Homo sapiens: one gene and its partners. The protein of the gene in region 1 interacts with the protein of each later gene in a pairwise test. Each region holds a gene or a part of one and is shown in the gene's direction. Other genes may lie near its edges.

The links.
Region 2: the proteins of HUNK (region 1) and AKR1C3 interact in a two-hybrid assay, tested with the Homo sapiens proteins (one large-scale study listed by BioGRID and IntAct).
Region 3: the proteins of HUNK (region 1) and SH2B1 interact in a two-hybrid assay, tested with the Homo sapiens proteins (one large-scale study listed by BioGRID and IntAct).

Annotation. Positions count from the first base shown.
Region 1 is NC_000021.9:31,875,962-31,879,613, forward strand, and holds part of HUNK (hormonally up-regulated neu tumor-associated kinase), read left to right. Parts: intron 1-3,652.
Region 2 is NC_000010.11:5,092,789-5,096,540, forward strand, and holds the start of AKR1C3 (aldo-keto reductase family 1 member C3), read left to right. Parts: upstream 1-1,625; 5' UTR 1,626-1,656; coding exon 1,657-1,740; intron 1,741-3,621; coding exon 3,622-3,752. UniProt on the Homo sapiens protein: Cytosolic aldo-keto reductase that catalyzes the NADH and NADPH-dependent reduction of ketosteroids to hydroxysteroids.
Region 3 is NC_000016.10:28,866,811-28,870,462, forward strand, and holds part of SH2B1 (SH2B adapter protein 1), read left to right. Parts: coding exon 1-223; intron 224-520; coding exon 521-622; intron 623-2,195; coding exon 2,196-2,287; intron 2,288-2,397; coding exon 2,398-2,573; intron 2,574-3,652. UniProt on the Homo sapiens protein: Adapter protein for several members of the tyrosine kinase receptor family.

The DNA of each region.
Region 1 (3,652 bases):
AGAGCTCAGCCAGCGCTTGGGTTCTGGAGCTCTGTGCTGGGCCCACTGGGAACCCCGACATGCAGGGAATTCTTGCCCAAATAGGATTCACATGAAGAGACTCGCTGCTTCCCCAGGTGCCCACTCCCCTTCCCTCCCATCTTATGTTTCTTAAATGATGAATCTCACTTCATTGTTGCAATGACAGGAGATGTTAATTGGATGTAAAATTATTCCCCTGGACCCATTGGTGGACTGCGGGTAAGGATGGTGGTTCTTTGGGTGGAGAAGGAGGCAGGGGAGAGATGTCTGTGTTGAAAAACTTGGTTTTCCCGGGATGCTCCTCCCCAGCGGGGAGAATCAGTGCTCCAGGGATTGCGGGCATTGGGAGAAATCTGGATTTTAGTTCACTCAATTGCTGGCTTTAAAGAAACAATGGTGTCATTCATAACATTTATCTCCCAAATCCAGCACCTTTAATGCTTAACTAATAGATTTGGGTTTTAGCAGATTGTGGGGATTAAAATGGTTGTGTGTGTATGCTTGACTCTGAGAAAGATTGCTAAATTAAAATGAGTCCTCATTCCCACTCTAGTTTTGGGTATTGCCTAACTAAGGCCAAAACAAAGATGACCACAGCCTCAGGCTATTTACAACCTGAAGTTCTTTTAAAAGGTGAGCTACTAAGATGATTTTGGCCTGGGGAAAGTTTCCTCCAGTGAGCAGAGCTGAGGAAAAGGAGGTCATTAAGCCTCCAGTGTCCCCCACTGTGGGTGACCCAGGGAGGCCTCTCTCCCTCATTAATTCCTCTTTTCTTGGGGTGTGTACATTTTGGATTTAGAATTTCACTTTTCTCCTGTCCTATCTATTTATTTTTTAAATTTTTTATAAAGACAGGGGTCTCACTGTGTTGCTCAGGCTGGTCTCCAACTCCTGGCCTCAAGTGATCCTCCCACCTTGGCCTCCCAAAGTGCTACAATTACAGATGTGAGCCACTGCACCTGGCCCATCCTTTTATAAAGGATCCATTCCACATTAGGAGGGGAATGAAGTCATTAATACTGTAGTGAGAAGTACTCCCAGCCCACGTGGAGCGAAAGGATTCAGGGCAGCTTGTCTTGGGAAATCAGTCCATGAAAAAGCTGAAAGAGGGCATAGGGAAACAGAAGTTGAGAGGGCACCCCAAGTTTGGCCTGCTTCATAGCTGCATTCTCAAACTGTGAGAATTAGTTTTGGGTGATTTGTGCTAAAATCTAGGGCATTGCTAGTTGAAGGCATTTGGTATGGGGGTGTGTGTGTGTGTGTAGCGTGTTGTGTTTCGACTTGGTTACACTTCCAAAAAGCTTTGGGTGAAATCCTTCATGGTTTGCTGGGAATCACTGTCTGAGTCCAGATGACAAAGGGAGCCAGTTTTTCCCAACTTTCCTTTTAGGTTTCAATTTGATCTCATCAAGAGGCTGCTTTTGCCACCACTGCCTGTAGGACAATCTTTTGCCTGCTTTTCCTCTGAAGTTGTTTGTTTAGAAGCCATTTGAATCTAGATGGCTCTTTTACTGCTTGTAAAGGAAAGATGGCTTGCGGCTGAGACCTAATTGTGTCCTCCTTTGAGTTAATGCAATCTCTGTTAATCTGGCTTTAAAAATAAATAGTTCACTTGGCCATGTGAAACTCTTAATAGGTACCTTCACAGTCAGGGCTGAGTGTCTTTGACCAAAGTTGATGATTAGACCAGGGAAAATGATCACAAAACCAGATTCTGAAAAGTACCACTCTCTGGCTTTGAGACGAAGAGCAAAGCTGTTGAGCAACAGTATGGGGTAATGACTTTGAAACACCTGGAGTGGTTGTGCTTGCAGAGCCTGGTATTGATTTGTGATACCTATGAGAGGCGTGGTCTCTGGCACATAACAAGTGCCCCCCGCCCTGGCCCCCAACCAGACAGAGTGACTTGGGGGCTGCTGCATGATCAGATAATATCATCTGTCGACAGAATAAGGAAAGTGACTTACAGAAAATTGAAGTGAGGTCCAGAAACAGGACAGACGTGGTGGCTCATGCCTGTAATCCCAGCACTTTGGGAGGCCAAGGTGGGTGGATCACTTGAGGTCAGGAGTTCTAGATCAGCCTGGCCAACATGGTGAAACCCTGTCTCTAATAAAAATGCAAAAATTAGCCAGGTGTGGTGGTGCATACCTGTAATCCCAGCTACTTTGGAGGCTGCAGCAGGAGAATCGCTTGAATGTGGGAGGTGGAGGTTGCAGTGAGCCTAGATTGTGCCACTGCACTCCAGCCTGGGTGACAGAATGAGACTCCATCTCAAAAAAAAAAAAAAAAAAAAGAGTTTAAGATTTTAAATTTCCATAAACGTTAAACTTTAAATGAAGCAACTTAGAAACCACGTATAATGTTTCTAATACAGACATTATAAATAATGTTTGTAAGGAATCAGTAAAACAATGGTCCTTTATCATCAGCAATATATTTGGATAATTCCTTAGAAGTTTGGTTTAGTGGCTGGACGCGGTGGCTCATGCCTGTAATCCCAGCACTTTGGGAGGCCGAAGTGGGTGGATCATTTGAGGTCAGGAGTTTGAGACCAGCCTGGCCAACATGGAGAAACCCCATCTCTACTAAAAACACAAAAATTAGCTGGGTGTGGTGGTGCACACCTGTAGTCCCAGCTACTTGGGTGGCTGACACATGAGAATTGCTTGAACCCTGGTGATGGTTCGTGATACCTACAAGAGGCATGGTCTCTGGCACATGACAGGTTATTGTGTTTTGTAAAAAATTGATAAAAGTTGAAAAAATATAGTTGGAAAAGCTGAATCGAGAAAAGAGTAGGTGTATCTCAGGTATTGAGCCAGTGTTGTAGGCAGGCAAACTACAGAACAAGAACAGACAGTCCATGCCACTGTTACCTTTTTTGTGATTGAGTCTCACTGAGATACAAAGTTGAGTACATAAAATGATTGGTTAAGATGTTGAAATATCTTGTTCTAACCCTTGGTTAAAGAATAATAAGCCGGCTTGTCACTTCCATCAGAACTATTTTTAGGCTAAGAGTAAGGGTTGCCTGCTTACTAAGTTGCCAGTAATCATGCTTAGAGCATGACAGTGCCAGATACCTGGAGTGAAGGAGTTACTAAAAATACGATTTACTATGTTTTGCAGAGCAAGAAATATGACTAATTTTAGAGGTGGCCTTTTGGCAGATCTGTTTTTAGCAAGTATTTCTGAAACAAACAGGTGCTAAATCCTGTATTTTTGAAGTGCTAGAAGTTTAGGGGTAATCGCTCTGAGGAACAAGAAATGCTTAGAGAACTGGAAATTCCTATTAATCCTTGGCAGGGACTTCTTGGCAAGAAGGAGGCATTTGCAAAGCACCTGCTTGGTGAGCCCTGTGTGACAAGGCAGTGCCTGTAATTTCGAGGATTGCATTCTGCAGTTGCAGGCGGATTCTTTTGAACTTCCTGCCCTGCCTCATCTTTTTGAAGTACTTGTGAATGATGGAAATTGGCACGTAGGGCCTGGTTCCTAGTGTTCATTGATACAGGTCCCACGGACTTCAAAGGGTGCTTTGAGTCAGCGCAACAGTGCAGAAACGGTGCCCACGGAGAGGAGTACAACCCTACATTTTCTCTGCAGGTGTTGAGTCACGGCTATAGCTACC
Region 2 (3,752 bases), on another chromosome or scaffold:
TCATGGTTCTTCAAAAATAATTTCTGTCAACTCGTTTTCTTTCTTATAAGGGACTGTGTTTTCCTGTTTCTTTATATACCTTATTATTTTATTTGAGCATTTCAAAATATAGACATTTTTCTAACTCTATATAGATTTGTTCTGTGTCATGACGATTATCAACTAATATGCTTGGTATGTTCTTAGTCTTAGCATAAGCCCAACATAAAACCCTAAGGCCTTGTCAGCAATTTTCTGAACTTGTATCTGCCTGGACTGTGTGTGCCCATTAGTAGTTCCCCCAAATACCTACTGGCTTTTGAATAGCTTACTATTTCAAAAATTCACACCCCAGCTTCCCCTCAATGGGTTAGACGGACTATTGCACGTCTCTTCCCCTAATCTCTTGCCCTTGGCATCATACTACATTTCTACTCAGCACCCCCATAAATAAATAAGTTTATTTTAGTCAATTTCAGATCACTTCTTGACGCGTCCATGAGACAAGTAGGGGCCTTTTGATCCACCATATTGCTGAAATCACTCTGTAAAAGCTTTCAATGATTTTATATTATATTGTATCAATGTATAATAATTAACTTATTTCTCAACTTACTTTTTGGTTATTATTTGAGGAAAAGTAAATAGAACGAAATCAGGGCATTGCAAGTTCTGACAACTCCAAGATGTTGATAATGTATTGTGCAAACTACATTCATCATGTTCTAATCTGCCCTCCAAAGGAAGGAACAAGTGAAAACTATCCCACATGAGAATTATTCATCCATTTATATGTAATTAATTTCCAGTTTTTCCTTACAAATAATGTTTAACAAGATGACAGATTATATAAAATGGTTATCAGTTTTTTGGCTAGTTACTTCTTGATAGTCTGTAATAAACCTGGTTGAAGAACAAATACTATTAAGGCACTGCTTGCATATATTAAATGATGTCCAAACTCCAAAAACTGTTAATAATTAACACTCCAATAAAAACTACACCAGAATTTCTTTTTATTTGCACCCTCATCAGGATTACAGCTTTATCAGGACTGCATCTTCTTCAGAAATGAATATTTCTCTTACAACGCAAAGAAAGAAAAATCAAAATAAATTTTCTGATTGAAAATGTAAAAAGGCAAATATTTTTACAGTTTTAACTTTAATTTTTTATTGAGGACCAACTATTTGAAAAATTCTCATTAGTCATTCCTTTAAATTATGTGTATGTGAGAGAAAGACGTAAGATGGTTAATTATTTCAAATGATGCAGTATAAAGAAGGGGCATTATCACGGCAGAAACGAAAAAAGATATTTGTAGCTGGAGGTTTTTATAGTCTAACATATGGTTGCTATTTGTTCTACAAATCCTTTTGAATAATTTAATATAGAGATTTAGAATAGAAAATAATACTTTAGATAGAAATTAATGAGTTTATTATAACCATATATTATAATAATTTACTTAGGAATTCTCTTTGATAAGAAACAAATGAACTGAATGCAATTTTCTCCACAGACCATATAAGACTGCCTATGTACCTCCTCCTACATGCCATTGGTTAACCATCAGTCAGTTTGCAGGGGTGGGGGGAGGGGTTTCCTGCCCATTGTTTTTGTAATCTCTGAGGAGAAGCAGCAGCAAACATTTGCTAGTCAGACAAGTGACAGGGAATGGATTCCAAACACCAGTGTGTAAAGCTAAATGATGGCCACTTCATGCCTGTATTGGGATTTGGCACCTATGCACCTCCAGAGGTAAGAATAATTCCTTTTAGTTTTCGGATTTCAAAAGAATAAACCTAGTAGAAGTGAAACCCGTATTGGGTTGTAAGGTTCGTGTTCCTACCTTACTCTGGATGACTCACTGGTCTAGGTTTCCTAGGCTAGGAGAAAAAAGTAGGCAATCCTTGTTCTGCATTGAGGTCCATTCCTATGGTCACGTACTGCTTATTTTTCGTTTGTGCACTGTTTCTTTCTTCTGTTCATGTCTAGTTCCCAGCTTGGCAGAATATGTAAAACTCAGTATTGAAGAACACTGTTGGTCATCTCCCTCTGGTGGAGATTAATTGCAATAGGAGTGATTTCTCTGTTTCTACAACTGAAGAAATCTTTCCATCTTCCAAGAACATACGATCCAGAGAAATACTTATAGCAAAAATTACTGGATATGGTGTGCACAAAACTGTCGGCAGAGTATCACTGTTCTGATGGGCGGCAGTGAGTGCCACCCAGTATTACCGGACCTGGACTAGAGTTTCCACTGTACTATTTCACTTTTAAAAAGAACTTCCTGAAAGAAAAAAATACCACCTCATTTTAAGTAAAATCTAGAACCTAACAAAGGAAAGTCTAAATTCTTAGTCCTTTTTTGTATGCATCATATTTGTATCAAAGTGGTAGGAGTGGTCTTCTGACACAAAAATGAACAAAATGGAGACCTCATTTTCTAGATAGAACTTGTATTCCAAGACTGTCCTCAGGCTACTAAGTGTGTGAATAGGAACTAATTATTGAAATTTGAGTCTCTCACTTTATCGATAAGTTGTGATGATCTACAAGGATACATTTTCTAGACCAGTGACAAAAGTGGTTTAATTTTTAATATAAATTGGCATGGGCAGGAAATGAAAATAACGACACAACTGAAGCTCCAGCCTTGGTAAACCTTTGAGTGTTGGCACACTTAAAGACTGCTCTCAAAAAAGATTTAAAAAAAAAAAAAAAGACTGTTCTCAGGAGATGGCGGGGAGACCGTTATCTAGTTCCTTGTAATTTCAACGAAACAAGAAAGCTTCTTTAAATACATGTAAAAATGAAAACAGTTTATTTATATTTTTGTCATTAAAAAATACCTTTCAAATCTTTATCCAAATTTGGTCAATAAGTCAGTAATTTTAAATTTCACTGGAATTCTGTCTTTCCTGAAAGAGATAGCCTTATTTTTTATGGCAGAACTGTACCTTAGTAAATTCTTAACAGATTTCAGTGAATTTTTAATGTACAAATCGATATCCTCAGAGTATACATCTTTACCCCTAGTGTTCAGTTCTGTTGTGTAGCCAGAATGACTATGCAGAAAAGACTTAATAGACTACTATTCACAGATGCTTTATTTCCCAAGTGAACCCTAGTTGGGTCGATGTAACTAGCATCCAGTCAAAATCTCAAGAACTGAGACACCAAAGAACATCTCTTGTAGACAGCATTTCCCAAATACGATGTTGGAGGAAGTCTGAGTGAGCATTCTGTGTAATATCACTGGGAGAGAACTCATATGAGCTTGCACCGTTTCCCTTCTATACTCCATGTGATTTTTACCATGTATAATATCACTATATTAAAAATAATTAGGACTATTTCAGTCATGTTAACTTTTCCAACAAATCACTGAATCTGAGGGTGTTATTTGGTACCTCCATAACAGTGATCAACCAGAGATTGCCTGAGACTGAAGGTGTTTCTGGGATGCTCAACCTTTATTACTAACCAGGAAAGACTCAGGCAAACTGAGATGGACTTTTCACCCCACATACAGACAGGAGGAAAAGCTGATTCTTGTATAAAAGTCAATGCTTGTGCCTGAACTACCTCTCAGCCACAGTGATCACCAGATACTACCTTTGGTTGCTCCTCCAGGTTCCGAGAAGTAAAGCTTTGGAGGTCACAAAATTAGCAATAGAAGCTGGGTTCCGCCATATAGATTCTGCTCATTTATACAATAATGAGGAGCAGGTTGGACTGGCCATCCGAAGCAAGATTGCAGATGG
Region 3 (3,652 bases), on another chromosome or scaffold:
CTTGAAGGATGGAGCAGGGATGGTGCAGAGGGAAGAGCTGCTGAGTTTCATGGGGGCTGAGGAGGCAGCCCCTGACCCAGCCGGAGTGGGCCGGGGAGGAGGGGTGGCTGGGCCTCCTTCAGGGGGAGGAGGGCAGCCTCAGTGGCAGAAGTGTCGCCTGCTGCTTCGAAGTGAAGGAGAAGGAGGAGGAGGAAGTCGCCTGGAGTTCTTTGTACCACCCAAGGTGAGGCCCCTTGGAGGGTGGGTGACTGAGAGCAAGTGAGAGAGTGCTCAGAGTGGTCACAGCCCTGCAGATAAGCTCTGGGGTTTACCAGCCCATGGCCCTGGTGTCGCTCACTTTTTGTTGGTAAAGCTGGCTCTTGGCTCTGTGTTAGCAGCTGCGGGCAGGACTGAGAAAGCAGTGTGACTGCCTTTTGTCTAACTTCCCGAGGATGTAGAAGGAAAGATGAATGTCTGGAGGGAGGGGAAGAGTGGTCTTTGGAAACCAAACACCCAGATCTGTTTCTTTCTCCTGACTTAGGCCTCTCGGCCCCGACTCAGCATCCCCTGCTCTTCTATCACAGACGTCCGGACAACCACAGCCCTGGAGATGCCTGACCGGGAGAACACGTTTGTGGTTAAGGTAGGAATTCAACTTCCCAGCCGCCGGCAGTGCTTGTGTTAAGGAGAAAGCCCTCAGCGCATTTAAGCAAGTGGCGTCGCCGAAAGGAGGTATATATATGTGTCCAGTGCCTTGAGAGTGTGTCCCTGGGGCTGCAGCTTTTCTGGGATAGCGGAAGACAGGGAAATGTTCTTACTCTCAAAAACAATGCCTCCACTTGAAAGAGAACTGTGGAGTTTTTGTTGTTGTGGTTGTTTTAGAGAGACAGGGTCTCCCTCTAAGTCAGGAGTGCAGCAACCTGATCATAGCTCACTGTAGCCTCGTGTAGCCTCGAACTCCTGGGCTCAAGTGATCGTCCTGCCTCAGCCCTCTAAGGAGCTGGGACTACAGGCATGTGACACCATGCCTGGCTAATTTTGTTACTTACTTACATTTGAGATAGAGCCTTGCTCTGCCGCACAGGCTGGAGTGCAGCGGCGCGATCTTGGCTCACTGCAACCTCTGCCTCCCAGGTTCAAGCGATTCTTGTGCCTCAGCCTCCTGAGTAGTTGGGATTACAGGCATGCACCACTATGCCCAGCTAATTTTTTGTATGTTTAGCAGAAATGGGTTTTGCCATGTTCGGCAGGCTGGTCTCAAACTGGCCTCAAGTGATCCACCCCACTTGGCCTCCCAAAGTGTTGGGATCACAGGCGTGAGCCACTGTGCCTGGCCTTATTTTATTTTATTATTTATTTATTTTTTTTGAGACAGAGTCTCGCTCTGTCGCCCAGGCTGGAGTGCAGTGGCGCGATCTCGACTCACTGCAAGCTCCACCTCCCGGGTTCATGCCATTTTCCTGCCTCAGCCTCCCGAGTAGCTGGGACTACTGGCGTCCGCCACCACGCCCGGATAATTTTTTTGTATTTTTAGTAGAGACGGGGTTTCACCAAGTTAGCTAGGATGGTCTCGATCTCCTGACCTCGTGATTTGCCCGCCTCAGCCTCCCAAAGTGCTGGGATTATAGGCGTGAGCCACTGCGCCTGGCCTATTTTATTTTATTTTATTTTTATTTTTTATATTTTTGAGACGGCATTTTACTCTGTCTCCCAGGCTGGAGTTGAAGTGGCATGATCTTGGCTCACTGCAACCTCCGCCTCCCGGGTTCAAGCGATTCTCCTGTCTCAGCCTCTCGAGTAGCTGGGACTACAGGCGCCTGCCACCACGCCTGGCTAATTTTTGTTTTTAGTAGAGACAGGGTTTCACCACATTGGTCATGTTGGTCTCGAACTCTTGACCTTGTGATCCACCCTCCTTGGCCTCTCAAAGTGCTGGGATTACAGGTGTGAGCCATCGTACCCGGCCTCGCCTTATTTTATTTTTCAATTTTTTTAGAGACAGGTTCTCACTATGTTGCCCAGACTGGTCCAACTCCTGGGCTCAAGTGATCCTCCAGAGGTGCTGGGATTACAGGTGTGAGCCTCTGTACCCGGCCTCCAGAGAGAATTCGAATGCATCTTGTTTGTAGACAGCCTGCATACATTGTTCTCATTAGGCATGGATTAAGCCTCCTCCCTGCCCCTGCCCCAGCTGAGGCGTCGTCTCATCTCTGTAGGTGGAAGGTCCATCCGAGTATATCATGGAGACAGTGGATGCCCAGCATGTGAAGGCCTGGGTGTCTGACATCCAAGAATGCCTGAGCCCAGGGTGAGAAGCCTGACTTCTGTCGCTAAGGGACATAGAGTGGGGTTGGGGAGCAGCCTTGCGCCTCTCACCTGGTGACTTTCCTCCCAGCACCATCTTCCCTGTCTCTGCAGACCCTGCCCTGCTACCAGTCCCCGCCCCATGACCCTCCCTCTGGCCCCTGGGACCTCATTCCTTACAAGGGAGAACACAGACAGCCTGGAGCTGTCCTGCCTGAATCACTCGGAGAGTCTACCCAGCCAGGACCTGCTGCTTGGACCCAGCGAGAGCAATGACCGCCTGTCGCAGGGTAAGGGTGGAGCCTTAGAGAGCTCGGAGCCTCGGAACCTGCCATGCGGGGCCCCTGCTGTCAGGCGCCATGCCCTCTCCAGACGCCACTGTGCCCCCATCCCTGTTTTCCAGATGCCCTACCCCAACCCCACCAAATGTTGGTCTTTGATCCCTGAACACAGCCACAGTTTGCTGTTTAGAATAATCATGACCCCACGCAGGCCCCAAGCAAACCTTAGCCAGGCTTCTGCACCCAGCCTCGCCACTTTTTCAGTCAGCGTCCTGCCAGCCACCGCTCTGGCTGGAAATAATGGTGGTTTTCTCCAAGCTTCTGGAACACTTTGTAGAAATCTTTGTTTTGTTCTTACTCTGCATCTCTGTGTCTGTCAGGGGCAATCACGTTTTCTCTTGACTCTGTACTTTTTGGTCTGACCAAACACACATACCCGACCCACACACACAAACACACAAAGATGTGTCACCCAGTCCCAACTCATATTTCTAGATTCGGCCTCCACTATAGCCTTTTCTCCTGACCCTCTGTTCTGAGTTCCAGCTGCACAGTGCCTAGCACACAGGCTGTATTCAGTGAATGAACACATGAATCATGGAATCTTAGATCTAGAGTGGACCTTGCATCTCATCAGATCTTAGTAGCTAAGACCAGGGAGAGGACACCTGAGGGTCACTGAGGAAGACAGGGGCTGCGCCACCCTGTTTCCCAAGCCATGCTGTCTGTGCACCACACGCCTGTCTTCTGAGCACTGCCTGCCTATGACATTTGTGTAGGCAGTGGCCTGCTGTTGGACAGACTTGGAGGATGGCCCTAGTGCATACCTGGCCCTGCTCTGTGTCCCGGGCCAGGATGGGGTAGCTAGGATGCCTGAGATGAGCTCCTTGTTCTCTAGAGGCTTTCAGCTGGGTTGACATCACTCCCTATAGAAAGCTTAGTGTCCCCTGAGCAGCACAAGCAGGAATCACGTTGGGAGCTCAGGAGGAAGAGAGCAGGGGAAGGTGGGAGAGACAGGGACTGCGACGCCGAGGAGAGGAGAGGACATGCCTGGGGACGTGAAGGGCAAGAGCAGAGACCTGCGGGGA